Linked DNA regions of Homo sapiens: regions 2 and 3 are each linked to region 1. Evidence: fine-mapped expression QTL. A gene starts in region 1. Each other region holds a variant in brackets. All regions are shown on one strand. Distances are from middle to middle.

Evidence for each region. PIP is the estimated chance that this variant, and not a neighbour inherited with it, causes the effect. A credible set is the group of variants that fine-mapping cannot tell apart.
Region 2: its variant is the best candidate, but not a certain one, in a credible set for the expression of PM20D2 in tibial artery (GTEx, PIP 0.83).
Region 3: its variant is the best candidate, but not a certain one, in a credible set for the expression of PM20D2 in lung (TOPMed, PIP 0.80).

The regions. Positions count from the first base shown.
Region 1 is chr6:89,140,689-89,150,995 of GRCh38, forward strand. PM20D2 (peptidase M20 domain containing 2) reads left to right here and starts at 5,367. Exons shown (of 7, transcript NM_001010853.3): 1 at 5,367-5,921; 2 at 8,577-8,725. The coding sequence starts at 5,457. LOC101929004 (a long non-coding RNA gene) reads right to left here and starts at 6,178. Exons shown (of 4, transcript XR_942766.4): 1 at 5,005-6,178; 2 at 3,059-3,145. RefSeq lists a silencer at 5,184-6,113.
Region 2 is chr6:89,245,707-89,256,013 of GRCh38, forward strand. It overlaps GABRR2 (gamma-aminobutyric acid type A receptor subunit rho2), which reads right to left. Exons shown (of 9, transcript NM_002043.5): 9 at 8,758-10,307. Among named protein-coding and RNA genes, the nearest start is that of GABRR1, 34 kb to the left of the region's middle. The variant C/T (reference allele first, on the strand shown) is at 6,490.
Region 3 is chr6:88,738,300-88,748,606 of GRCh38, forward strand. The region is part of intron 13 of RNGTT (RNA guanylyltransferase and 5'-phosphatase); the gene reads right to left. Among named protein-coding and RNA genes, the nearest start is that of RNGTT, 220 kb to the right of the region's middle. RefSeq lists a silencer at 5,078-5,278. The variant A/AT (reference allele first, on the strand shown) is at 5,005.

The sequences.
Region 1 (10,307 bases):
AAGGAAAAGCCTATCCTCTCAGAACCTCCCTGTCCTCATTTCCAGGAATAGTGATGGAGAACAGAGCAGCTAATCTCACTGCCAAGAGAAGGGAAGCCAAAGGGAGCCTCAGGTCATCAGGTACCAGGACATTCAGGGCTTTAAAGTCACTGCCTTCACTTTGTGGGCCATTTGAAGAAATCCGCACAGAACTTGAAAACGAGTTGTAATAGAATCTTGCCCAGCAGAAGCAAGGGTCTGTCAGGTATTTTTGCTCATTCCCTTTTTGTTTTTCAGGGTTGTTTCCTCAGCTTACATTTTTCCCTTTCAACTCACTCACTCCCTGGATGGTTTAATTCCCCTCTGGGTATACCATTACTCATACTAGCTATGTAGAAATGCACTTTCCTTGGTGCTCTGCTGGTCTCCTCCTGGACAACTGCATCTACCTCCTCTCCACGTGTCTAATGCACATCCATCAATTTGCCCCTCACTCTCTTATTTCCCCTATTTTGTTTCATGGCTTTACCATTCACTCAGCTGTTAACCCGAGAAACTTCAGTTCTCTTTCCCCCTTTCTCTGGAGCACCTTCTTCACCTAAACAGACATTCAGTGAGGAATTAAGTCTGGCCATTTCTGCCCACGGAATGTTTCTGGAATCCTTGGACTTTGCAAGAGCCTTTTATTTATTTTTAATTTTTTAAATTATTTTTTAAAGACAGAGTCTCACTCTGTCACCCAGGCTGGAGTGCAGTGACACAATCTTGGCTCACTGCAACCTCCACCTCCCAGGTTCAAGTGATTCTCCTGCCTTAGCCTCCTGAGTAGCTGGGATTACAGGCGCCCGCCCCAACACCCAGCTAATTGTTGTGTTTTTAGTAGAGATGAGGTTTCACCATGTTGGGCAGGCTGGTCTCAAACTCCTGACCTCAAGTGATTCGCCCATCTCGGCCTCCCAAAGTGCTGGGATTACAAGCGTGAGCCACCACGCCTGGCCTGCAAAAGCTTTTAACTTATCTCAGACCTAAGTCTGTTTCCAATTCATCTTCCAAATAGTCATCAATTATTCTTGTAGAACAAATTTCTGATCTTGTCTCTCTCCTGCTTAATAACATCCAATAGTTTAGCCATTGTCCAAGTTTTATTTTACTTTGAGACAAAAGTCTCACTCTGTTGCCCAGACTGGAGTGCAGTGGTGCAATCATGCTTACTGTAGCTTTGACCTCCCGGGCTCAAGCGATCCTCAAACCTCAGCCTCCAGAGGAGCTGGGACCACAAATGTGTGCCACCATGCTTGGCTTATTTACTATTTATTTTATTTTATTTTATTTTTTGTAGAGTCAGGGTCTCCCTATATTGTCCTGGCTGGTTTTGAACCCCTGGGCTCAAGCTATCCTCCCACCTCAGCCTCTTAAAGTGCTGGGATTACAGGCATGAGCCACCAAAACCAGCTAAAGTTGTAATTCCTTAGCAATGTGTTGTACACTTCCTCTATGTCCCTTCATCCCCAATCAAATTCACCTTTCTGCTCACCTACTCTCTTAGTTGTCTGCTTTCTGCCATATGACAACCAGCTCTTCCAACACCTTAGCCCAGATTGATTTTACATGTGCTATCTAGTGCGTGTTACGTGTTTGTTTCAGCTAGAGAAGTTTCTGGAGTTAACCAAGTTTGCATGTGTGTCTGGGGATGCTTAGGAGAATGTTGTAAATGACCAGTATACCAAAGTGACACTGTGATTTGCTTCTTCTCCATGCTGGCAGCAGCAGTCCTCAAATCGTGCAGTGGCCAGCATTTTGTTCAGGAGAAAATTGCTGTAGTTCCAAGTATTGTTAAACTGAAACGATGTAGGCTGGATTCACATGCACTTTTGGAAATATCATATATTTTGAAGGTATTATAAGTTTGATTTTTTTGGTGAAATATCTGCACTCTCTCCTTGGATTAAATCATTTTTGCACTTTTTATTCCTTTCCCCCACAATTATTATTATTATTATTATTTTTTGAGACGGAGTCTCGCTCTGTCACCCAGGCTGGAGTGCAGTGACGCGATCTCGGCTCACTGCAAGCTCCACCTCCCGGGTTCACGCCATTCTCCTGCCTCAGCCTCCCGAATAGCTGGGACTACAGGTGCGTGCCACCACGCCCGGCTAATTTTTTGTATTTTTTAGTAGAGACGGGGTTTCACCATGTTAGCCAGGATGGTCTCCATCTCCTGACCTCGTGAACCACCCACCTCGGCCTCCCAGAGTGCTGGGATTACAGGTGTGCGCCACCGCGCCCGGCCCCCCACAATTATTTTTGTTTGTTTGCTTTTCATTCCTGAAATCCTGCACTGAAGCTCTCTGGTACTTCTATTTACTTTTTCTCTACCTTTAATTTTCTTCATTTTATTTTTCATTCCATTCCTTTTTCTGTTTTCAAAAACTTTTTTTTCTCATTTAGCTCATGCTTTGCCATGAGCTCATGCTTTGCCATGTTGGGGATTTTATTTTATTATTTCTATCTTAATTCAAAGAATATAAACCATACAAAAGCCTGCTGCCTTTTCAAAAGGAGTTCTGAATCTGAAGCCCAAAATAATACCCAGTATAGTTGTACAATTTGGCTGTATTTTAGTTGCTTTTCCAGGGTAAAGGAAATTTTTGATCTACTCTTTCCACCACAGCACTCATTTGTCATGAATGTCCTGTTCTCAAAGTTATTGAGTCAGTTGTGATGACAGCTGGTTTTCTAAGCAGCCAGGAAAGAAGAGGAATCTTTATATATTTTTTCCCCTTTTTTCTCATCAGGAGCCAAGAAAGAACATTTATATACTTTAAAACCAGTCCTCAAGAGAGAACTATCTGCACTCCTCTCACCCCCCCAAAAAGGTTATACATCTTAATACTAAATTCTGGATATTGTATTGTTTCCTCAGATCCAGCACCAGCTAAAGGAAGGGAGCTTGTATACATTTTTTTTTGTTTCTAATAAAAACATACAGGTTCCTTACCAGTAGCACATAGATAGGGTAGACAGTTGTATGAATATTATGGGTACAAATGAAAGTAATAGTAAGAATTTATGAGCTGACCAGATTCTAGAAAGCCACATGTCCAACTCCATCAGCTTCCAGAAGCAATTCTTCCTGCCCCCAGCTCCACATAAAGGACTGAGAAGTCTAGGAAGAAGCATAACAATGTCTATTGGTAGTCAGTGTCGTTTAATGGTTAATTGCTGCCATTATTCAGTTAGTTTATTAGATTCAAGAAGAATAATCAGCCAACAAATATTTATTAACACAGAGGAAATGCTGACCATAAGATGTTAGGTGCTGGGGAATGCAGTGGGAAAACAAAAGAGTTTAAAGCCTGGAGGGGAAGATAAACGGTCAGCAAGTTATCACAGTTTATCAAATAAATGAATTCAAGGGTGCAAAATACCATGAGCAAGAAATACAAGGTGTCAACAGTAGAAACTGAATACATACGTGCCTGTGGGCATGTATACCCACCCACCCACCCACATATATACACAAGGAACAGAGCTTGAAATGAATCTGTCTTTCCTCTACCTCAAGTGGCAGCTTTGTTAATTCCTGCAAAGCAATATAAATAGCAGCTTCTATATGAAATTATATGCATCCCTTTTCTGTTGCTGTTTATTGATGCCTGAGGAGGGCAAACATGGGTTCTACTGATGTCAGCAGGCAGAGTTGCTGCAGTAAAATTTATTCAAAATGAGTGTTGTGGGTTCTGATTTGAATAGATAAACTGGAGATGCATTTATGAATTTGCATGTCTGTTTACACAAGCAATAGACCATGGTGGCTGAAAGTCAGCCACTGGAGGCTGACTCTGGCTTCTGTTCTACAGTGGGTCCACTACTTACTAGCTCTATAATCTTGGACATACATCTGTAAAATGAAGATAAATAACCACATTAACCACCTCATAGTTTGCTGTGAGGATTAAATGAGTTAACAAATGCTAAGCCCTTGGAACAGTGCCTAGCACAGAGTAATTGCTCTACAAATGTCACCTATTGCTTTTGCTCTCCAATCCCCCCTTCTCCCCTTTTTTTAGCCAACTAACTGAGCAGGATAATATTGGATCTCGTGGATACAGGGTAATTTTCTTCAGCAGAATACCAGAGAAAGATTTATTATCGCCAAGGGGGCCCAGGAATTTAATAACACATTTGTTGTTTTTAGAGCTGAGTTTTTGTTGGAGTGTTAACTGAGAAAGAAAGTTTTCAGACGTGAATGGAATGTGACATTTACTCTGGTATTATTAGCATATAGAGTAGTAAAAACAGTAGTTGATAGTCTTCGTGCATGTTAGCTTCCCTTAGACTTATTTTCAAAATATTCATTTGGTTTATCACATTAATATATTGTGTCCCATTTAACATAGTTGAGACAAATTAAGGAAAGATGATAGGGTATGAAGAGCTGATAGAAGCTTTTAATATGTGGAAAACCTCAGAATATAAACATCTACAGTGTTATTAATAGGCATACCGTCAACAACAGTTTTTCAGACTTTGTGGTTCACTCTGGAGAAAAACAAGAGCATGACATCTTGAATTTCTTCACTGGGTAATTAAAAAACTCAGTTATAATGTAACACCAGCTGCACATATCATGTTAGTGGAGTTCAGCATCAATTAAAATTATAAACGAAACCTGTCATATGTTCCCTTTCAAAGCTGTTCAAGACAACTGTCCAAATCAACAAAACAGTATGAATATTTACTACCATAAATCTTTTAACTCTTTGGTTTTAACTCATTTCAAATTTTTAGTTCTACTCTATTCAAATAAATTATTATATAATAGCTAATACATACCAAGAGCTTACTGCATAATCTAGCTGCTGTTCCAGACATTAGTAACCAATGAGAAAACTGTAGAGAGTAGCTGCAGCTTTTAGTAATACAATGTCAAGGAGAAGAAAGTGGGGGCAGTACCGAAACTTACGTACAGTACCGTCGTTAGTACAGCATTGACACTGACGGCCTCCTTCAGGAAATACAAACCTTGTGAGGTTTTAATTACTAATGCTACAGAGTGGCGTTTTTCCGAGGACTGTGTTCCACTTGGTCTGTCTCTGATGGCTATTAACTAATAACCGTTCTCATTCTGCTGCTGTGGGAAATAAGCAACAACGGAAAAGTAATCGATAATCTTAGAGCATAACTCAAAGGCCAGAGCAGCCAAGGAGGTGGAAGAGTCCCGAGCCCTGCCTTCTCCACAGCACCCCCAAAACCCCACGGCGGGGCAGAGCGCCTGGTAGGGTACGAGCGGCCGCCAGCGTTTCCCGCGCGGCGCCGGGGGCGGCCCCGGGACTGGGGGTGGTGCCCTGGGAGCTGTGTGGCCGCGTGCGCGCTCCGCCGGGGTCCTGGAGGCCTCTGGGCGCGTGCGCGGGCGGTCGCTACCTGCGGCCGAGCCAGGGAGCGAGAGGGCGCAGAGGGCAGCGGGCTTGGGCAGCATGAGGCCCGGAGGGGAGCGGCCCGTGGAAGGGGGCGCGTGCAATGGCCGCTCCGAGCTGGAGCTACTGAAGCTGCGCTCGGCGGAGTGCATCGACGAGGCGGCCGAGCGGCTGGGGGCCCTGAGCCGCGCGATCTGGAGCCAGCCCGAGCTGGCCTACGAGGAGCACCATGCCCACCGCGTGCTGACGCACTTCTTCGAGCGGGAGCCGCCCGCGGCCTCCTGGGCAGTGCAGCCGCACTACCAGCTGCCCACGGCCTTCCGCGCCGAGTGGGAGCCGCCGGAGGCCCGGGCACCGAGCGCCACGCCACGCCCGCTGCACCTGGGCTTCCTCTGCGAGTACGACGCGCTGCCCGGCATCGGCCACGCCTGCGGCCACAACCTCATCGCTGAGGTCGGGGCGGCGGCCGCGCTGGGCGTGAGGGGGGCCTTAGAGGGCCTCCCCAGGCCGCCTCCGCCCGTGAAGGTGAGGTGGGGCCCGGGTGCGGGACCCTATCCGACTGCCCGGGTCGGGGGCGACCCGGGAAGGGCGGGACTCTCGTGCGTCCCGCGCGCCTCGGTGCCCTCCCGCCCGGGGCAGGTGTGTGTGGGACCGCGCTAAACCTGCGGTCCTCGCCTCGGCGCAGGAGCAGAGCTGAACCCCCAGTCAAAGTCAGTTCGCGTTGCCGACCTGGCGACATCTTGCAGATTATTGTTTCCTCCTCTCTAGTTATAAACAGCTCTGCTGAGTTGTTCCCTTAGGAAAGAACTTACACCCAAGCCTGGTGTTTGTTACGGGTTATTTTTGGTAACTGAGAGAGGCAACAGCAATTTGCTGACAAGGTTGTGCCATCAATCTCAGGAGGAAATAACTTCTTGTAGGTAATCCTACGGCCCCTTTTTATTCGTCTCCAAATAAATCTTTTGTTTGTGGCAGTCCTAGAAAATGTGATTCAAGTCATTGGTATTTGGATAGGAATTTTCAGTCGCTAGAACCACCAGACCCCTAGAAGTATACAAATAAAGGGGAAGTGAATGAGCATTATACATAGATGAGTTCATCCTTAAGTCTTAATTTTTTTGTTTTATGATTTTAAGAAATACCTCGACTCTTTAAACAGGGAAATGTCGTTTATGTTTGTCGTAGGGCAAGTTTAATCCTGTTTTACTCTGCTTTTCCAGATGGTATATTCTACACTATGAGCTAAGATTCAATCGTCATTCAGTTAAGGGGAAAACAAATGTTTTATTTTCATACTCTTTAGTTCATTTCCCCCAGTGTCAGTAACCTTCCTCTTTTATCCTAACACTACATCTTTTGTGGCTTTTTCACTTTAGCTGCCTTCTTTTTTCTGTCTCTGGAGGCTCGTTTTTGCATTTGTTAGGTTTTTGTTTGGGTTGGGGGAAGCATGCTTTGCCATGTCACAAACACTGGAGAGATTTCGCTTCAACCACGTTTTTAAAGGTTCTGAGTAGTCAGCGAGAGACATATCGTATTTAATGAGTTAAGGGTCAAGAATGAAGAGCGGTGGGCAGATCAGTTGAGGTCTGGAGTTCGAGACCCGCCTGGCCAACATGGTGAAACCTCTGTCTCTACTAAAATATATTAAAAAAAAAAAAATTAGCTGGGCGTGGTGGCTCACGCCTGTAATCCCAGCTACTCGGGAGGCTGAGGCAGGAGAATCGCTTGAACCCAGGAGGCAGAGGTTGCAGTGAGCCGACATCGCGCCACTGCACTCCATCCTGGGCAACAGAGCGAGGCCTCCTCTTAAAAAAAAAAAGAGCGGCGGCTTCATGTCAGAGTTTGAGCACTGTAGAACCGCCAAAAAAAAGCTAAACTTTGAGAAATGTACACTCTTTTTTTTTTTTTTTTTTTTTTGAGACAGTCTCATTCTGTCGCCCAGGCCGAGTGCAGTGGTCCTATCTCGGCTCACTACAACCTCCGCCTCCCGGGTTCAGGCGATCCTCGTGCTTCAGCCTCCTGAGCTGGGATTACAGGTGTGTGCCACCACGCCCAGCTAATTTTTGCATTTTTTAGTAGAGACAGGATTTCGCCATGTTGGCCTGGCTGGTATCGAACTCCGGATCTCGGGTGATTCGCCCACCTCGGCCTCCCACAGTGCTAGGATTACAGGCATGAGTCACCGCTCCCGGCCCACTCTTCTAACTTCAAATGGTTGTTCTCAATTTTAGCAAGGTTAAGTTATTAATTATCTGAAAATGGAATTTAAGTTGATTTCCTTTGCAAGCCAAGACTTTTCCAGCTTGTTTCATTGTGTTCTTATACATGATCTTGAAAATATATTAGTTGTTTATTTTGATTTTTAAAATTGTTTGAAGCAGTTAAGCTTAAATATCAAAGTAAAATGTTTATTCTGTAAAGTTCTCTTTTGTTTAATTAGGTGTTTGGTGACCAATAAATCTGCCTGGTTGAACTGGTGGAATCGAATTAGTAAGTTTGTGTAATAGTTGGCTGTTTCTAACTGTGGCATTAAGACTTGTTTAATGTTCTTCATAAAGGATTAATGAGTTCAGACTTTTAAAATAGGTAGCCCAGTAAGGAATCAGAGTTTAGGCCAGAAGATCAGGACATCTAATCCTAATTCTGCCTGAAGACTTGCTCTGTGACCTGGGGCAAGACACTTCACTCAATTCCTCAAAAACACCCCCTGTAAAATGATGATAGAGATCACCCACCTACCTCACAGGGTTGTTGTGAGGATAAGTAGTAAGTTAACAGAAAGTTTCTGACTCGTAAAGTACTTAAGAATAATTATATACATACATACACTGAAAGGCTTAGTCGAGAGGAACCTTTTTGAAACAAATCCTAACAAATTTTGAGGGACTAAACTTGTAGTATTTTTTTTTATCTTTGCCATTAGTTGACTTGTAAAATTGGGAAAAGCTTTTTATAGTGTCTTTAGTACATACTTTGCACCAAGTTGGTATAACAATGTACATTTTGTGATTAATTTAGCACCATTTGTTGATGCCCATTGCGTAAGCGTCATAGAACAAAACCTGTCTTAATAGGTTAAGGACTTTAATGTAGATTGTGAATACATATGCAGGTGAACCTGTTTGATATATTCCTATGAGGATTTTGTTGTTTTTCCCTGACATGAGTATTTCCTTCTAGGTAGTTGTCCTGGGAACCCCTGCAGAAGAAGATGGTGGTGGCAAAATTGATTTAATTGAAGCAGGGGCTTTTACAAATCTTGATGTTGTTTTTATGGCCCACCCATCACAAGAGAATGCTGCTTATCTACCAGATATGGCTGAACATGAGTGAGTAATCAAGTTGAAGATAAACTTCTTAGGGGAACACAGGCTATAGAATACTTTTATGTCTAAACCAGAGACGAAAACTCCACATTTGTATATTTAAGAAGTAAATTGAAAGACAATAACAAGATGTCTTGATCTATGGAGTGACATTTGGCAAGCCTCTTCTAATTGAGATTCATTATGGTGTTCATAATTGGAGTATTAAAATAGTAGCACTTAGAAACCATAGGAATAACAAACATGTTGACAATTAAGTTCTCTTTTGAACTGTCAATAATCTGGTGTCTGGAAAACATCTGTCCTTTCATATGAAATTGTCTTTGCAACTGAATAGATTTGCGAGAGATCGTTCTATTAGCTATGGGAAGAAACCACACTTATCCATTTTATTTACTTTAATTTGAGTTCTTTGCAAAGAGGATAAATTATGTCCTGAGAGAGAATATGGAACATGAGTAGCTATGGTTTTTGTGGAACTTCTCATTCTGTGCTTTTCCGATTTGTCTGGTGCTGAAACCTTTTATTTGTCTTTCTTTATGTTGAAGAACTCACTTTTTAGTACCTAGGAGCACACATCATTGAAGTGGTTTGGATTTTTTATACCAGAAATTTCAACCATAGTAGTAACTATAGTAGTTAATGGTCCAGGCACAAGGAGCCAGTGCTCAGCTGCTTCAGCAAAACCATGTGTTTTCCTCAGAAGTAGCTCGGTACTGAGGGAATGATAGCAGAACCATCACAGCAGTGCTTCTAGATTGTACCCGGGTATCCCACCTCTTAGCACCTTACCAGGCCCTGTTTTCAAAGGGTGATCATTTTAACTATTAGGGTATCTTCCTTCTTATCACTGGAAATTGGTACTGTGGCAGTAGGAGGAATCTTTGAACTTTGGTTTCAAGGGTGGTGGTAAACTAGTCCATCTCTAGAAAACACTGGGGATTAGAAATCTCTGCCCTTGCCTTTGACTAGAAGGGGCCTGCATATGCAGGCAGGCTCTGCAGCTCATTACCCTTCTGGGACTTAAGGTTAGGCTTCGTGGTCTTGGTTCTGAAGTCAGCGCACTTGACCCCAGACCTTCTCCTAGTATCTGCCTTCTTAGCTTTCTCACTGATCATCTCTTTTTTTTTTTTTTTTTTTTTTTTTTGAGGCTGAGTCTCACTCAATTGCTCAGACTGGAGTGCAGTGGCACGATCTTGGCTCACTGCAACCTCCGCATCCCAGGTTCAAGTGATTCTCCTTCCTCAGCCTCCTGAGTAGCTGGGATTACAGGCGTGCGCCACCACGCCCAGCTAATTTTCATATTTTTAGTAGAGACAGGGTTTCACCGTATTGGTCAGGCTGGTCTTGAACTCCTAACCTCAAGTGATTCACCCACCTCGGCCTCCCAAAGTGCTGGGGTTACAGGCATGAGCCATCACACCTGGCCTTCATTGGTCATCTTTTAAGATAGAAAAGAGAGGTCAGGTGCAGTGGCTCACACCTGTAATCCCAGCACTTTGGGAGGCCAAGGCAGGTGGATCACCTGAGGTTAGGAGTTCGAGACCAGCCTGGCCAACTTGGCAAAACCCCATCTCTACTAAAA
Region 2 (10,307 bases), 110 kb after region 1:
GGATATTGCTAACCAAGAAGAGAGCCTTCACCACACACTGAATCAGCCAGGGCCTTGATCTTGGACTCCCCAGCCTCCAGGACTATGAGAAACAAGTGTTCATTGTTTAAGCCACCCAGTTGATGGTATTGTGTTATAGCAGCCTGAACAGACTAAGATGAAGTTCTACAACAGTTGCTCAAGGGAAAACTGTGTGAATTTATCGTAGACAACATCACCACTTTGCACTTATACAGGACTTTAAGCTGACAAGTGCATTCCCATGCATTCACTCATTTGCTTCTCACAACTCTGTGAGTTAGGCAAGGTAGGAGTCAGCACCTCCATTTTACACATAAGGAAACAGAGTCCGGGAATTTTCTCCACTGTAAAATGGAGACATCAACAGCCCACCAGGAGCAACTCATCTACAAATTGTAAACATGAATTTTCAAACCAAGCCTATTTTCTTCATTTGATTGAATATTGGTAGATAACTTTTAAAAACTGCATGAACTTGTATTTTTTTGCTTCATCTTGGCAACTTCTTCCACAAATTCTTCACTTGAACTTCACAAAGGGTCTAGTTGTATATTCACCACCCCTGAGCTTCGTTCACGAGTAACTATCTTAGATGAGCATGTTTCTGTGCTAAGACATGCACAACTCACATAACACCTTCAGGATTTTATAAGATTAAACGTACGCCTGACTTAGGTATGACACCAAAAGCACAATCAACCAAAGAAACAGCAGATAAGCTGGACTTCACTGAAATTTAAAATTTTGCTGCTTCAACAGACACCATCAAGAAAGTGAAAAGACAACCAACTGACTGGGAAAAAATATTTACAAAGCGTATATCTGATAAGTATCTGATAATTATATCTAGAATACATAAAGAACCCCTACAACCCAATAATTAAAGACAACCAAACTTAAAAATGGGCAATCCGAATAGACATTTCTCCAAAGAAAATATACAAACAGCCAATAAGCTTATGAGAAGATGCTCAACATCATTAACAATCAGGGAAATGCAAATCGAAACCACAATGAGATACCACTTCATACCCATTAGAGTGGCTATAATAAAAGACAGACAGTAGTAAGTGTTGATGAAGATTCAGATAAATTGGAAGCCTCATCAATTGCTTGTAGGAATGTAAAATGGTCCACACTTTAGCAAATAGTCTGCTCCTCAAAAAGTTAAATATAGAGTTACCATATGACCCAGCAATTCCACTCTTAGATTTATTCCCAGGAGAAATGAAAAAATATGTCTACACAAAAACATGTACACAAATGTTCATGGCAGCATGATTCATAATAGCCAAAAATAAAAACAAACCAAATATCATAAATAACATGTGGTATATTCATACAATGGAATATTATTTGGCAATTAAAAAGGAATAAAGTATTGATACATGCCACAACATGAATGAACCTTGAAAACTTACACAATGTAAAATAAATCAGTCACAAAAGACCATACATTGCATGATTCCATTTATATGAAGTGTACAGAACAGGCAAATTTATAGAAACAGAAAGTAAATTAATGGTTACTTAAGGCTAGGGGAGGGGAGGAATGTGGAAATTGGGGATGAAAGGACAGGCAGTTTCTTTTTGGGGTGATGAAAATATCCTAAAATTCATTGCAGTAATGGTTACATGACTCTGTGAATATATTAAAAATCATTGAATTGTACACTTTAGATAAGCAAATTGTATGGCATGTGAATTATATGTCAATAAAATGCTTTCTTAAAAAAAATTCACTGACCTAGTTAATACCTAATAATTCTGCTCCTGGGTACGTGCTAGGAGAAATAGGAGCATATGTTTACACAAACTCTTGTACACAAATATCTGTAGAAGCTTTATTTATAAATACATTTATTATTTTAAAATCATTTTAAATAATTTATTGTAAGAAGATTTATTTCTCCAAACTGGAAACAACCCAAATGTCCATCAACAGAAGAATGGATAAAGAAATTCTGGTTATTCATACAATGGAATACTGCTCAGCAGCAAATCAAAATGAGCAACTGATACGTGCAACAACATGAATTAATCTAAAAAATGCTATGTGGAGTGAATAAAAGCCAGACATAAAAGAGTACATACCTCATGATTCCATTTATGTGAAGTTTTAGAAATGATAGAACCAATCTAATGGCGATGGATCTCAGAACAGTAGTTGTGAAGTAAGGGAAGGTGATTATAAGGATTAATCTGGAGCATGGAAGAACTTTATGAGGTGCCAACAATGTTCTATCTCTGTAGATTGTGGGCTAATGGGTACACACATTGTCAAAACGAATGGAAATATACACTTAAGATCTGTATATTTTAGTGCATGCGAATCATAACTCGATAAAAGTTGTCAGCTGTATCTGGTAATAGTTTATGAAAAGGTAAGTTTCCCAGAACACAGATATGACAGATATGACTACATATTCCCACTCTTTAGATGCCCATATTCATGTGGCATGTGTACATGACATGCAATAAATAGGGGCAGAATAGTATTGTGGAAAACGAAAGATGTCATTATTCTTGGACACTATGGCCTTAAGATAAGCAGTAACTTGAATCCCAGGTGTACAAATGGCCCAGATTACTGACTCATGTAGTCATACATTATTATTCACAGTGTTGTTTTTAAATGCTGTCTTATTTCTTGTATTATTTTATTATTAAGAAGGAACATCCAGAAAATTATACAAGCTGTTTATCTCACTCTGGATTCTTTTTTTTTTTTTTTGGAGACAGAGTCTCACTCTGTCGCCCAGGCTGGAGTGCAGTGGCATGATCTTGGCTGACCGTAACCTCCGCCTCCCATGTTCAAGCGATTCTCCGGCCTCAGCCTCCTGAGTAGCCGGGATTACAGGTGTGTGCCACCACACCCAGCTAATTTTTTGTATTTTTAGTAGGGACGGGGTTTCACCATGTTGGCCAGGCTGGTCTCAAACTCCTGACCTGAGGTGATCCACCTGCCTCCACCTCCCAAAGTGCTGGGATTCCAGGCGTGAGCCACCGCGCCCAGCCCTCATCTGTTCTTTTGGTGAAAATGTCCAGGATAAAGTGCAAACTGAGTTTTCTTGGGAAGAATTTCATATATTCTGAAATCAGACCTTCCCACAGTTTCAGTGTTCAAATTTTTGTTTTAGAAATGACAGTGGGTCAGTGGCTCACCCCTGTAATCCCAGCACTTTGGGAGGCCGAAGGTGAGGGCGGGGGTGGATCACTTGAGATCAGGAGTTCGAGACCAGCTTGGCCAATATGGCGAAACCCTGTCTCTACTAAAAATACAAAAATAAGCCAGGTGTGGTGGCTTATGCCTGTAATCCCAGTTACTCGGGAGGCTGAGGCAGGAGAATCACTTGAACCCGGGAGGCAGAGTTTGCACTGAGTGGAGATCATGCCACTGCACTCCAGCCTGGGCAACAGAGCGAGACTCCTTCTCAAAGAAAAAAAAAAATGACAGTGATAAGAGATGGAAGTAATATTTTGAGTTGTGGGTGGTTTTAAATCTTTTCATTTGGCAAAGTTAAAACTTAGCAATGCTCTTCCCCTTTTGGGAACATGGCAACACTCTTCTCCTCCTTCCTCACTTTCCTCCCCTCTCCTCATCTCTTTCTTCTACTTCATTTTTCCTCAGGGACCAGACACTGGGCTGAGTATTTTAGTTTTTGTTTTGTTTTGTTTTTTAGAGATAGAGTCTTTCTCTGTCACCCAAGCTGGAATGCAATGGTGTAATCACAGCTCGCTGCAGCCTTCAACTTTTGGGCTCAAGCAATCCCCCTGCCTCAGCCTCCCAGACAGCTGGGACTACAGGTGCATGACACTATGCCCAGCTAATTTTAAAATATTTTTTGTAGAGACAGGATCTCACTATGTTGCTTGCGCTCAAGTGATCCTCCCCCCTTAGGCTCCCAAAGTGTTGGGATTACAGGCATAAGCCACTACACCCAGCCTGGGCTGGGTAGGTACATTGGCTCACTCACTTCTCACATCCACTCTGAGAGGCCAGAATTATGTGTGTGTGTAACACACAAACACACACACATTTTTTTTTTCACGTAAAGAAACTAAAACTCAGAGTAAATAAATGGCTCATGGCCACAGAGCTAGCAAAGTGCATCCTCTGAATCTCCAGGCTCCTGCCCCCACAAAGAACATGAATGAGATACCTCAGTAGCTAACAATAAATGACACAATGTAAGTAAGCATTCAGCACAGTCCCCAGTGCCTCATGGGCAAGAAGAGTTCACTCATTTCTTCCATAAATATTTCCTGAGCATCTATCATGTGCCAAGCACTGTTGTAGACCCTAAATTACTGCAATTAAGGAAATGGACAAAAATCCTTGCTCTCAGATAGCTTACCTTCTAGGGCTTCTTATTACATCCATGGTTAAATTCTCTGGGGCAACCTCCCCTCCTGTACCCTTTCTGCTCACAGGAGGATGAGAAAGGTCTGTGGCTAGGTGCCACTCTACAGCCTCTCCAATGCCATGGTAGAGCAGACACCAGGAAAGAGTTGGAGATGTGGAGGCAGCAGCTGCCAGCTTCCTAGCGGAGGTGGAACAGCGGTGCTTTCTTAGGGAAAGGAAAAGAAGAGGCAGGTGAAGGCCGGAGGCCAGAAGAGGGCTGGCAACCAGAGGCCCAGCATCCAGGGCTGGAAGCTTCTTCCAAGCAGCTCAGGCAAATCCAAGCTCTGTGGGTGCTTGTCTGACCCTCCCACCCCTGATTTCCGTGCCTGCGGCCAGGAAGTCAGGTGCCTTCTGGAATGATCTGAAAGGACGTTGGTAGAAGAAGACTAAAACCTCCCTTGGGCCATTTTTTTTTTCCTGGAACTCCGTAGCTTTCTTATAGGAAACTGTGAAAAGTGAAAAGGGCTTGGGGACAGAAGCCCCAGTTCCAGCCCTGGCCCTGGAACTCACCCCCTTTACCTCTTCTCTCTCTGTAAATCCTTCTTCACTGGGCTCCTGGAAGAACTAAAGCACTGGGTTCCTGGAAGAGCACCTGCTCATAGTAGGCTCTGTATTCTTTGTTGGGCTGGTTGGCTGACTCCATCTCTTGTCCCCATGCACTGTGTTCCTTCTTGTTCTTCTGTCTCCCACCCATTCCTCCAGAGTAGACCTTAAAGCCCCTCCAGAGAACCCCTTGTTTCCAGGGAACACAGTTTAGAAACCATGTCCAGACAATACTCTCCCAGAGAAATTTATTTCAGACTTTAGTACCAGCCTTTATTTTTTTCAGACACAGGGTCTCACTCTTTCACTCAGGCTGGAGTGCAGTGGCACAATCACAGCTCACAGCAGCCTCAGCCTTCTGGGTCCAAGCAATCCTCCCACCCACTTCAGCCTCCTGAGTAGCTATGATTATGGGTGCACACCACCACACCCAACTGATTTTTAAACTGTTTTGTAGAGGAGTCTTGTTATGTTGCTCAGGTTGGTCTCGAACTCCAGGGCTCAAGTGATCCCCCTTAACAGCCTTTTAAAAATAGTGTCATTTAAAAAGAGAGAGAGAGTTGAGACCACAATAAAATCAGAATGGGGCTGGGCTTAGGCACTGATACTTTTTCAAAAGTTCCCCAGGTGACTCACATACAGCCAGCCTGGGAACCATTGTTCAAGTAGAATAATCACAACATAAAGGAAGTGCCTCAATGCACAAAATGCTTTGGGATCACAGATGAGATAATAATACATTCTGCCTTGGGAGGGGAATGTGAGCTCTCTTGTCAGGATGCCACAGACGGGAGGTGACACATCTGAGTTTCACTTCAAATGATGAGCAGGGGTCTCTGGGGCCTTGTTACTTAAAGCCTGGTCCGCAGACCAGCAGCACCAACATCTCCTGGGTGCTTGTTAGAAATACATAATCCAGGGTCCCCTCCCAAAACTATTGGATCAAAATCTGCATTTTATGAAGATATCCAAGTTATTCATATGCACATTAAAATTTGAGCCATGTTGGGCTAAATGGACACAGTGCAGAAGAGTATTCACCACCATTAACCTGGTCAGTTTAGATTAAACAACAGAGTACTACAGCGAAGGTTTATTTTTCAATTTAGCTTTTAAAATAAATCCGAAACCTAATGTTATCGATGGCTGGCCCAAATGTCATTTTTTAAATGCCATCTGAAGGTCAGAGGGTCAGGACTGAGTGCTTTATCCAATCTGCTAATGGGGAATGTTCTTATGCTGCAGATATGAGCAGGCTCCGGATGGCTCTGGAGGCTGGGTAGGCTGGGCCATGAGACCCTCCTAGCACAGGACTTAACTCTCCATGAGAAGAGTCCAGCACACTTGTCCTCAGACACATGTAAGGCACACAGCCTTCTTTACCGGTACCGTTTCCTAGTGATTGGTGGGAGTGGGGAGTCAGCTGCTTCCATACCGGTGCTAATCCTCTAGGCCACAGCCCTCCGTTCCTTTGCAATGGAATGAAAAAGACAAGACGTTTCAAATGGTGGTGGTCACGG[C/T]GGCGGCTGTGGATTCTCCTTGCGCACTGATTAAATGAATAGTGCTTTTAACAGAGTCGGTGATGGAAACCCATAATGCCTCTGCCCTGGCTGCCCTGAATATGTATGTGTCTCTCAAAGCCAGCTTCCAGCCTCAAGAAGCTAAACCAAGATGTCCTGGTTTAACTCCAAGTTCTCACCTGAGTGTAGAGATAACCATGTAGATGTGTTTCAGCATAACCCAGATTTTCTATCTGCTCTTTCTAACCACTTCTCTGTCCATCTAAGTGGGGAATGAATCACCTTTTTCCTGAAAATACTATGAGAAATGGATTGTTTCATGCAAGATCCACCTACGTAGATGTGTTGACTGCAGTTATGGGAGGCCCCACAGCTTAGCAGGTATGGAGTACGGGAAAGTCCTTCCTACCACAGCAGGGTTGATGTGAGAACTGAATCAGGAATCACACGTCTGGCGTTTAGCCTGGTGCTGAGCGGAGGATGCACTCTATACTTGCCATTTACCTCATATGGTCACTTTAATGGCTGTTCTCTTATCTTCTGTGACGACTGGATCTGATGATCCAGTTATAAACGCTGTTCTTGTGCCACTCCCCCAAATTCCAGTGTAATAGTTTGGGGAACCAACCATTGAGAACACAGCCCTTATTCAGGCTGGGTCTGCTACCATGTTATGTTTTAAGCCTTCAAAAATATAAGAATCTATAATAGTCTTTCCATAATAAGTAACATAATTCTCTGAACATGTTACTTCTACCTTCCTCAATCACTGTGGTTAAGACAGCCAAGGATGGCTGTCTACCTGGTGTTTGTGGCCACCGAGCCTCCTGCCTACACCTTGTCACATCTGTTCAGTCTTTACCCTTCTTGTTTTTATGGTTATTATTTGCTCCCAGCCCCACCCTCCTCCTGTTGAGAAACTCCCTCCTCCCAGCTTCTACCACAATCCTCCTCCCACCTAAATATATACTCCCGAGCTCTTGTCCACAGACCTGCTGTCTGCTGCTTCTTCCCCTTCAGTTTTGGCCATTTTCATAGCTTCATTCAGCATATCTAGGATATGGTTCCAAATCTTTATCTCCCTCTCAGGCTCACACCAACATTTGCTACTTTTTATTTGACATTTCTAGTTCCTTGTGAAACTCAAACTCCTCATCCTCCACGCATGCCAGCTCTTTCTCCTGGCTTTCCAGTCTCTATGAACATCAACACATAGACTGTGGCCCTCACACATTACTGAATTTAGCATGAACTTTCTCCACTATTTTTAATGTTATTTTCCTTCTTCACTGGTTTCCTCAAACTAAGCAGCCTTTCATTTTTCAAATTCATGGCCTCCCTTTAACAGATGTTTGCAAAAAGGTGGAACCAAATAAAAGTGTTTTTGAAGAGTTCTAGCTTTCTCAACTTAAACACATCACAGAGATCTGATCACCTTCAACATACATGGCCCAGCCCAGACCAGTTAAATTCATTCCCCAGGTTTATTCTAAGTGGAATAAACATAGAAAGACCCTTGACACTGGGTGATTGAACTAGAAAGCTGTGGGCCTAAGACCGTCAAGGCCACTTCACCCACCCACCCACAGCAGGTGGAGGAAACTTGTCTGCAGTGGGTGAGAATGAAGACAGACAGAGTGTTGGATGGAGATATGACCCTGAAGGGACATGCTGAAACCCAATTCCAGACCCTTAATTCCCTAGAGCTTCCCTGCTGCCTTCAAATCCCCTTTCATTCTATGAGCCCCTGGAGTATCCTTCCAATATATCTTCTTTTCATTTGTACCATTTTTAGTTGAATTTCTGTCACTGGCAACCAAAATGGTTAAAAACTACACCAGTTTATATTCTGATGGCAAATTAATTGATTTTCCAAAAGATTATAACTTCCCTGCTCAAAGCCCTTTTTCTCCAACTTACTTTTCCTATCTTATGTCTTGTACATTCCGTAGAGTGTCTATTCACTGACCCCTGAACATACCTGAGCTTTCCTTCTGCCACGTTATCATCCCTTCCTTCCCTTTTCTAGTACTCAAAGCTGTGTTTATTCATCACTCAATATTTATCAGAAAACACTCCTCAAATTCTGTGATCATTCCCTCCTTTGAGCCACACCCATTAGAGTGTAAGCTTCTTAATGACTGAAGAGTGTTTCCCATTCATTTCTTTACCCGTCACCACCATCCCTCACCTCAGCACAAGACCTTGAGGACAAGTGCTAAATAAATGTTGGCTCCTTGGTGTCAATGAAGTATGTCCAATCACCAGTTTTTGTATAAAACCCATTTCTTTTATTGTAACATTAACATTTTTTCACAGTTTCATATTGGTGAAATCAGGATTCATATTATAATCATTGGCATTCCAGAATTTGATTGTTAGTATTTTTTCTCAGTACATAAAATATGGGTGCATCTTACATTTCACCATGTCTTAGATTCAGTGAAGTAAAGTATCATTCATGCATTCCTGATAACAATTGTGTTTGCTTCTCTGTCTTCCTGCCTCCAGGGTGAATCATCCCATGTTCTCACTATTTCCTTAGTTCCTGTTTTCTACTCCTACCAATGTTGTCTCCACTTTACCTCTTTAAATTTCCTACTTTTCTCAAGTAGTGTCAGACTAGTATACTGTAATAAGGCAATGCTAAATACAATGGTGTCATTGTATCATGGCCCTGCATGATAAAACACTGTTTATGATTCTAAATATGTCTGCTATAGAATTAACTCCAGTTTAACATAGAAGCTAGCAAAAATAAATATTTGTTTTAATTTGTGAACAGGCAACTATGTTATATGAGCCATAATGCATGAAAACAATGCAGTCAGAAGCAGAGAAGGGTTGGAATTAAATAAGACTTACAAGCAAAGCAATATGATATATTTAATGACAATAGAATTATCATTCTTCGAGCAGCACTGTGGCCTGGGAGAGTCTCTATAGATAAAAGGTTTCTGGCCGGGTGTGGTGGCTCACGCCTGTAATCACAGCACTTTGGGAGGCTGAGGCAGGCGGATCACCTGAGGTCAGGAGTTCAAGACCAGGCTGACTAACATGGAGAAACCCCATCTCTACTAAAAAATACAAAAGTTAGCCAGGCATGGTGGCGCATGCCTGTAATCCCAGCTACTCCAGGGCTGAGGCAGGAGAATTGCTTGAACCCGGGAGGCAGAGGTTGTGGTGAGCCAAGATCAAGCCATTGCACTCCAGCCTGAGCAACAAGAGTGAAACTCTGTCTCAGAAAAGAAAAAAAGGTTTCTAAACAAGTCCAGATGCCCTGTACCACCCAATTACCCATATTTATGCATTTTTGTTCTTCATTGGTCTGTGAGACTGGGAAATCTAGTAGTCTTGGGTCCAGCAACTCCATAGTGGGGAAGCTGTCCTCATAAGCACCGGCATGGTGGGGACCTGCCTTGATCCCTAGTGTTGTGGAAAAAGCTAGTCGCTCACCTCCTCTTATCACAGCCTAGGATCCTGCCAAAATGAATGACTTGCCCACAAACCCTGTTCTCTGCAATGGCAAACCTTCCCATTCTCCCCATGCGTCCGCTCAAGCTGGTCTCTTGGCTGGTAGAGCTTCCTGGTCTTTAGGCTGCCCAGCCCAGTGCAGTAGCTACTAGCAACTGTGCTTACTAAGCCCACTTGAGTGTGGATGGTGTAACCAAGGAACTGAGTTTTCAATTTTATTTAACTTCAACTAATTTAAATAATAATAATTATTATTTTAGAGATAGGGTCTCGCTCTGTCACTCAGGCTGGACTGCAGTGGCTTGATCACAGCTCACGGCAGCCTGGAATTCCTGGGCTCAAGC
Region 3 (10,307 bases), 400 kb before region 1:
AAATGTCACAGCCAAGAGTACCCTAAGGAGATATGACAACTAAATGTAATGCAGTATTCTAGATGGGATCCTGGAAAAGAAAAAGGACATCAAGTAAAAACTAAGGAAATCTGAATAAGCTACAGACCTTAGTTAAAAATAACACACCAAGTCTGGCAAACATGTGAAACCCTGTCTCTACCAAATAATACAAAAATTAGCTGGGCATGGTGGCACATGCCTGTAAGTCCTAGCTACTCAGAAGGCTGAGGCAAGAGAATCTCTTGAACCTGGCAGGCAGAGGTTGCAGTGAGCCAAGATGGCACCACTGTACTCCAGCCTGGGTGACAGAGTGAGACCCCGTCTCAAAACATAAATAAATAAATAATAACATACCAATATTGGTTCATTAATTGTAATAAATGTGCCATGTTAATAATAGGGTACACTGTTTGTGGGGGGCCCAAGAGGTGTATATGGGAACTTTCTGTTCTATTAATATCTACTCAATTTTTCTGTAAATTTAAAACTGTTCTGGAAACTAAAGTCTATAAATAAAATACACACACACACACACACACACACACACACCCCTTCCAAAACAGGAAGAAATAATGCATTCACATAAAAGAAATTTTAAAATGAATGATGTATAAATAATTACTAAATTAAAATTCTTAATGTAAAATAATTATATCTTAAAATTATTCCTTACTTTAGAAAACTGACACCAATTTATACTTTATGTTATTAATGTATGTGATGCAATTATATAAAGAAGATAAAAAAACTTTCTCAAATTTTCACTGTAGCCAACAGAAATCATTAAAAAGCTTGATTAAATGAGATAATGTATATAAACTACATACAAGGGAAATCAAGCATATTAGAAGCATTAAACACACAAATGATACTATTCTTATTATTAACAAGCTGGTAAGACAAAAGGTGAAGCAAATTTATGGAACCAAGAACTCTTCTAAGAAGCTTATTAAATTAGAGGATTCTTCATGTTGGGCCAATACCCAGCAATTCACAGTTTAAACACTTCCAGCTGGTAAGTGTTTTTTTGAGGCAAGCAAGGGAAATGAAGAACAAAGGGAGAAGGCAAAACTAAGAGAAAACAGCTTTCCTGTAACACTAAAGAAATTCAAAAGCATCATTAAATAAATACAGAAACACAGAAAAACATCACTGGAATAATAGAGCAGAAAAATTTTAAGTAAACTTATGTTTATGTATGAAAACAAGAAAGTAATTAGAGAGCTTTTGCTTTTAGGAACTATTTTCTAACATGTGACAAAGACAGGCTCAAAAAATATCTCATCACATACAGAACAGATTGAAAATACTTTAAAATGTTAAAAATGTTTATAATTCTGTCAGTTCAAATTTCACACTTTGGAATTAGGATATATTTCTCCCGTGTAACTGGTGTGAAAAAAATTATATATATATATATATATATATATATATATATATATATATATATATATATATGTTAACACATGCTCCATTTATCTAAACTAACATTGTTTAATTTTATTATACCAAGCAAATAGAAAATTTGAACTACTATATGAAGCTCCCATGAGGATTTATCCTTTAGATATAATTTATGGAATAGCAGAATTAATTTTTTAAAGTAATACATAAAATATGTCTACTAATTAATACCATCTTAGAGGAATCAATAAAATTCATTTATCAGTTATCTTCCATTCTGCTGACACCAAAGATATCATCCTACTCTTCTTCCAGAGAAACAAATTTTTCCTAAAATCACAATGTTCCTTTTTCAGAAGCAGGAAGAGAAAATTCTAAGAGAAGAAAGTAAAGGAATTCTGTGAAACAAGTAGGAAAGAATACTCAGGAGAAAGCAAGAGGGCTACTCTAGAGTTTACACCTGCTCAGAAAGGGAACAGCAGAATTAAAAGCGATCAAAAAATGAAAACGGGATCAGGCATGGTGGCTCATGCCTTTAATCCTAGCACTTTGGGGGGGCCGAGGCAGGAGAATCGCTTGAGCCCAGAATTTGAGACCAGCATGGACAACATAGTAAGACCTCGTCTCTACAAAAAATTAAAAAATTAGCCAAGCATAGTAGCACACACCTGTGGTCCCAGCTACTCGAGAGGCTGAGGTAAAGAGGATCACTTGAGTCTGGGAGGTCAAGGCTGCAGTGAGCTGTGATCAAATCACTGCACTCCAGCCTGGGTAACAGACACCCTGTCTCAAAAAAACAAAAAAACAAGAAAGGAAAGAAAGAGAAAAAAGAAAAGAATAAGAATAAGATGCAGCCATAAAAATGAATGAGATCATGTCCTTTGCAGGGACATGGATGAAGCTGGAAGCCATCACCCTCAGCAAACTAACACAGGAACAGAAAACCAAACACTGCATGTTCTCACTCATAAGTGGAAGGTGAACAATGAGAACACATGGACACAAGGAGGGGAACAACACACACCAAGGCCTGTTGAGGGGTGGAGGACGAGGGGAGGGAACGTAGGCAAGGATGGGTCAATAGGTGCTGCAAACTACCATGGCACACATATACCTATGTAACAAACCTGCACGTTCTGCACACGCATTCCGGAACTTAAAGTAAAATTTTTAAAAAAAAGAAATGAAATGACTTTTTAGTAATAGCCATTCTGACTGGTATGAGATGCTGGTTAGGCTGCAGAGAAAATGGAACACTTGTACACTGTTGATGAGAACGTAAATTAGTTTGACCATCATGGAAAATAGTTTGGAGATTTCTGAAAGAACTTAAAACAGAATCATCATTTGACCCAGCAATCCCCTTACTGGGTATATATCTAAAGAAAAGACATTGTTTTACCAAAAAGACACATGCACTCACTTGTTCATCGTGGCACTATTCACAATAACAATGACATGGAATCGACATAGGTGCCCATCAACAGTGGATTCGATAAAGAAAATGTGGTACACATACACCATGGAATACTACGCAGCCATAAAAAAGAAGGAAATCATGTCCTTTGCAGCGACATGGATATTGCTGAAGGCCATTATTCTAAATGTGAGAACAGAAAACCGAATACCACGTGTTCTCACTTATAAGTGGGAGCTAAACACTGGGTACTCATGGACATAAAGATGGTAACCATAGACAATGGGGGACTCAAGGGAAGGGAGAAAGAGGGGAAAGGGATGCAAAACTGTTGAGTACTATGCTCAGTACCTGGGTGACAAGATCAATTATACCCCAAACCTCAGCATCACACAATATACCCCATGTTACAAACCTGCACAATTACCTCCTGAATGTAAAATAAAAGTTAAAATTATTTTCAAAAATTTTTAAATTTAAAATAAATGAAATGAAAAACTGCTCCATATTACAAAGCTGAAAGATGATGTGACATCACAATCCAACATCCAGCAATGAAGTCTTCGAAAGCACATTTTCAAGAGATTTAATGAGTAATTAGATACAAAAAATTATTAATAGTGGTTATATGTGGGTAATGGGTAGGGGGCAGACTTTTCCTTTTCATGGCTCTGAACTTTTGTTTTCTTTCTCCATCTCCTCATAAATATATACTAGCTTTATAATTGCAAATAACCCCAAATAATTATCGACTGGTAGGACGACCTGATCTTTCCGTTGCTATTAGTAGGATCGTGTGTTCTTTTCATAAGGATCTAGATCATAAAAATAACCTAAATCTAAAACATTACAAGAAGAAAGCTGAAACATACATACTTCATTAACTGATGTTAAAAAACATTTATTAAATGCATTTTCTTTTACAGCATGATGACACTGCACTGTAAAAACAAGAGGTCCTGAATTCTATGGGCATATGGTGTAAAGCAAAAATGCTGATTCAGACAAATAGGACATATACACAGCAAAGCCAAAACAAACAATACTTTAACATGTATCGGATAAAGGTAGAAAGTTGAGCATTTACCTTCCAAAAAGGAGGGAAGGTCAATAGCCCAAAGAGAGAAATCACAGACAACTGAGAGGAAATGACTTTTTGTTTAAAAGCTAATCAGTTCTGTTCAAATATATTTAAAATATGCAATGGAAAGGCATTTCTTTTAAGAATGTTTTTAAAAGACCTAAAACAACTAGCTCATATCATATCTGTTTCAAAAATTATTTGAAGTTTACACATACAGTTACATGACAAGTTAACATATCATGATAGCTTTTTAAATCATTGCCATCAATAATCTGTTCTTCTTTCATCTTTCCTTTTGTAATCTCAAAGGAAAAGTTGCGAGACTACGTTGGGGGAAAGAAAGGCTTGTTAGAAGTCACGGCATGCTCTGATTGTGACAAAGAGTGCTGTGGCTAAGTGACCCAGATCTATTGACAAGGCTTGGAAGAGTTAGTCCCAGGTAGGAGAGAAAATTTACCAGTAAGCACTAAATGAATTCCAATATTAGATTACATTACAATAGCTAACTGTTGAAGTTTGGCAGCATTCACTTAAAGTGTAAAGGTGATTTTAAAAACTTTTCAAAGGGTGCTTATGAGTAGCAATTAGAGAGAAGTTTTCTAGAATTATAGTTCGGAAGAAAAATAGAATGTTACCCCTATTATTTATATTTACATGCAAGGCAAATGCATAGGTGGCTTGCTAAGTCACAGTTTAAGACGTCACCTTTCATCTGGAGAAAAAGATATGGATTACAGAAGCAATGTCTCAGAAGAAATAGGCATTACAGGGCTAGTCCTACAATTTCCAAATGTGAAGATACGCTATATTTCCCAAAGCTAGATCTGAAATAATAACATAAGAAGTAAACATTAATTTTTGTATTAAAAATGCACAAAAGGGCAGTGAAGACTCTTCACTCAAATAAAACACTGTATTGTTCATGGAGCAGTTTGAAAACCATGACTATGATAGAAAAGGAGTAAGTTTTGGAGTATAACAAGGATTTGTTTGAATACTAATTCCTATACTTAAGACTTATGTGATTTTAGACAAGTTCCTGAACCACTTTAAAGAAGTTTACTTGTTTTTTTCTCCA[A/AT]TTTTTTTTATTACGGTAAAATATACAGAACAAAATGTAGCATCTTAACCACTTTTAAGTGAACAGTTCGGTGGTATTAAATACATTCATAATGTCATACAACCATCACCACCATTCATCTCCATAAGTTTTGTTTTGTTTTGTTTTGTAGAACTGAAACTCTACACCTATGAAAAATGACTTCCCATTCCCCACTCCCTCCAGCCCCTGGTGACCACCATTCTACTTCCTGTCTCTAGGCATCTCATATAAATGGAATCACACAGTACTTGTCTTTTTGTATCTGGCTTATTTCATTTTGCATAATGTCCTGAAGGTTCATTCACAATGTAGCATATGTCAGAATTTCCTATCTTTTTAAGGTTGAATAATATTCTATTGTATGTATATACCACATTTTGCTTAACCATTCATCTACAGACACTATATCCCTTCCACATTTTAGCTATTGTGAATAATGCTGCTATAAACATGAGGGTATAAATCTCTTTGAAACCTCATTTTCAGAAGCAGAATTGCTGGATCATATGATAATTCTATTTTTAATTTTTTGAGGAATGACCATACTGTTTTCCACAGCAGCCATGCCAATAGTTTACTTATTTTTAATGAAGATAGCAACAACATCTACTTTATAGGTTTAGTATGATGAATTGAAATGATAAATAAAAATGGCTTAGTATAAAGCCTAAAAACATTTTGTTGGTACTCTTCACCTTTTTTCCCCCAAAGAAATAAAAATACCATATTTAAGCTACATTTTATGTTGAATTTATATTTGCATTTGTCACTATACAATAAATTTCATTATCAAACAAGCTTTCATGAGTTCATCATCTCCTGACTATATGATTTAACATAAGGAAATAAAACAGCTTTGTCAACAACTAGTAATCATTCTAAAATAGTTGGTAAGAATAGGATTGTTCTTATTACTCCTTTTTATTTTTCTTTTATTTATTTATTTATTTTTTTGAGACAGAGTTTTGCTCTTGTCATCCAGGCTGGAGTGCAGTGGCTTGATCTTGGCTCACTGCAACCTCCACCTCCCGGGTTTAAGCGATTCTCCCACCTCAGCCTCCAGAGTAGCTAAGACTACAGGCGCGCACCAGCACGCCCGGCTAATTTTTGTATTTTTAGTAGAGATGAGGTTTCACCATGTTGGCCAAGATATTCTCGATCTCCTGACCTTGTGATCTATGCACCTCAACCTCTCAAAGTGCTGGTATAACAGGCATGAGCCACCGTGCCCGGCCTGTTCTTACTACTCTTTATAAATACAGAAGACAATAGAAGAAGAGAAAACTAATCATTACATTAGCTCTTTTCCTCTAGAAAACCTGATTTCTGCTATTACATATGAATAGTTTTTTATGCTATGATATGAGGTTGATTCTTAATAAGACAAAGAATTTCAATGCATTGTTATTATAACATATACTAAACAAGATGAGTAATTTAGGAGAAAGTAGCTTAAAATCTCAGGATTATAATCATCTGCTATCATGACAATTAAAATGAGATAAATTTCAAGTATTTGGGAAGTTAACGAAACATTACAAATATGATGCTTAATATAAATAACAAGCTAAGGAAATTCATCAAATTATGAATATTTTTGGTTACAAATAAAACCAACTTATTGTTTCTAAGTATATATAGTTCTAATCAGTTTAGAGGTTAAAACAAAGTATTTTTCCTGGAAATAAAAAATTACCATAAGGAACACTGCAGTGATAATTTTTGCACGCAGGATCTGCTAATAGAAGCTACAACTAGTAGGAGAAAGTTTGAGGAGAAACAGAATATTTGCATACACTCTCCAAGAACCTATTAACTAGAAAAAGGAAAGCAGCAACTTTAAAGAAGAGAAACTCCGCATATACCACCTTTAACAGTGATGAAGGTTAACATTACCAGTAATGAGACATATCTATATCATCTACTCTGATATGACACACTGAAAACAGCACATCATTTCTGTGGTATTCTTGCAAAAAGTGCGTAACCTCAATCTAATTATGAGAAAGTACCAGACAAAGCCAAATCGAGGTATTGGGAATCAAGTTCGAGGATTCCCTAGAAGAACTCAAAGGACTCAGATGTTGCACTCACAGTTACAAGTTATTACAACAAAAGGATGCACAGAAAATCAGCAAAGGGAAAAGACACATGGGGTGATACATATTACACTGATGTTGAAATGACAACATTTTAGATATATTGAGTTAAATAAAATATGTTATTGGAATTAATTTCACCTGTTTCTACTTTTTATTATGGTTACTAGAAAAATTTAATTACATGTGTGACTCACATATTTCTATAGAAGAGTGCCGGTCTAAATACATTAGAAGTTACAAAATGGTGATAGTCTATTATTCCTTCTTCATTACATGGCTGGAAAACTTTCATAAAAAGAAACTTACCATTTGGCTATCTGAAGTATGTGTCGTATTAAAAAAAAAAAGCAGAAGAAAAAAAGGCTAGATTCTTGCCCTGGCTTTCAAAATAATAACTTGGCCCCCTTATATACTTCAAATATAACTGTACCAGTTATCAATTTTAATTGTGGAAGTTATCAATTTACTGCCTCTTATTTCCAAAGCTACCCTCTTGCCCTGCTTTGTGATACAAGATCAGGACCCTGTAACCCTGCTCCTTTGCCAGCAGGTACAAATGTCAGGCTTTGTGAGTACAGAGCAGTGAAGGGACACTACAAGGGCATAGCCTGGGTTCTGGTTTGGATGTTTTTCTATGATGCAGTTGTCAGCTAAATATTGTGTGGGAAGCCTGGTGGCACTCACCTGCAAGGCTCTAGCAGACCAGCTCTAGCCTGCCGGTATTCTATGGCAAATTTCCCCACCACCAAAGAGTGGCTTCTAGCAGACCAACTCTGATTTTCCAACATTTTCCAGCAAGTTTCTTCACAACCAACTGGCTGCTCCCTGTGGTCCAGCTGTGGCCTGCCACTCCCCTCTTACCCAGTTTTCAGATACAAGTCAGTCCCAACACCCAAAGGCCCCTGATGCAAGGGGAGGCCAGGTCCCCTTGCAGAAAGACCCTGTAGTTTTGCCACAAGTATATGCTTTAAATTATGTACCAAATCATCCCCAGAAGGGCCTATTGCTATCTACTAGAGCAGCGGTCCTCAACCTTTTTGGCACCAGGAACCAGTTTTATGTAAGATGATTTTTCCACAAATGTTGGTGGGGGAATGCTTTGGGGAAGATTTCATGTCAAATCATCAGGCATTAGTTAGATTCTCATAAGGAGCACGCAACTTAGATCCCTTGCATGAGCAGTTCACGATGGGGTTTGTGCTCCTATGAGAATCTAATACCGCCACTGATCTGACAGGAGGTAGAGCTCAGGTGTTAATGCTTGCTCCTCCGCCACTTACCTCCTGCTGTTGCAGCTTGGTTCTAACAGGCCACAGACCTATACTGGTCTGGCCTGGGGGTTGGGCACCCCTGTACTAGAATGATTATGTCATGGAGAAAAATTAATATCCAGACCTTTCAGAAATACTCTATACTGATTCCAGGGAAGTGATGCCAACTCTTGGGGCACAACACGCTACTATGACACAACACATCAAAGTGAAGACTTAAAGAAATCAGGTGATGGGTGAAGTCTTAACACAAGTTTGACCCATAGCAGACCCAGTCAGTCCACAGACTCACCCTGTGGTACTTTCTCCTATTCCTGAATGTATAATTGGAATAGACATACTTAATAACCGGCAGAATCCCCATAGGCACTCTCTTACACATGGGTTAAGGGTCATTATAGTAGAAAGAGATAAAGAAAAGCTCTAGGAACTTCCTTTGCCTGGCAAAATAGTAATCCAAAAGCAATATTGTGTTGGGGCAGGGGGTGGGCATCAAAATTTGAAAGAAGCAGGAATGGTGATATCTATCACATTCCCATTTAATTATCAGTCCGTCCTGCACATACATACATCATATAAATCTCAAATGGCTGTGAACAATTATAAACCTCAACCTTTTTCCCAAACCACTCATCCCACATTCTTCCCTATGGAATTAATCATGGCTCCTCTTTCTCAAATCTGTCAGCTCAATATACCACTTACGCTTTAATCTAGGAAGCAGAACCATCCAGTGATATAGAATCAGGAGTTTATTATAAGAGTTAGGCCTTATACTACTGTGGTAGAAGCGAGGGAGTAAAGATCCTGAAGGAGATAGTTGGAGGATCAGAAAAATACTTCTAACCAGAGACCATTAATGGGAGCTTGTGAAGAAGTCTATAAAAGCCTGTATCCCCGTGTTTGATGGTGAGCCTAAAGTCTATGACAGCAGGGCAGACAGTTGGGAAGAAAGCCTGGACATAAAATAGGACAAACTGCAATGCCTGAGAACAAACTGGAACTGATGGAGACAAACTGGAACCCAAGTCTGTTTTCAATCTTATCTAAACCTGATGCTGTAGATGACCTGCAGAAGAATCTGTTTCCCTTTCCTATGGAGCTATACATTCATTTGGCCCATGACTCACAGAAGCTAACAGGTAAGCCAACAGAGCAATGATTATGTATATATCTGAATGTAATGACTGCTGTTTTATTTTTGCCTTCCAAGTATCACACATTTCTCAAGGCTAGCTATCATCTAGTACCACACAAGGAAGAGAATTCTGGAAAACGCAATTTTAGTTTAACTAAACTAACACAGTAAAGAAAATCACTACACTACACCTTCTGGATCTTTTGATCCAGAATCTGACTGTTTCTCACCATTACTAATGTTACCATCCTAGTCACAAGAACTCTTGCCTGGATTCCTACAATGAACTCTTTCCTGACCCTTTCCTATCCAAGAGGGATTCTCAAAGGGAAATTAAAAGAAAAAAAAAGTCAAATCGAATGTCAGTTATCATCCTGAAACCCAGCAATGCCTCCTACTTCCCTCAGAGTATGAGCTGAAGCCCTAACAGTAGCCATAAGATGAGATAATACAGGGCCCGATCTCTTCTACTTCTCTCTCCCTCCTTCACTTAGTCATCTCTTGCCACACAGGCTCCAAGGCCTATACAGGATCTTTTGCTCCAGCTATTTCTTCCATCTGGTGCTTCTCCCTCATATCTACTATCTGCTTGGCTAACTCCCTCACTTTCTTCAACTATTTGCTCAAATCTTACTTTATCAATGGGACTTAAAATATTTTAATTTGTCACTCCTCCCCTTCAAACTGGAACACTCAACCCCTTATTATACTTAATTTTTTTACAAATACTGATTTAGCTTTCAACATATTATCTAATTTACTTATTTGTTA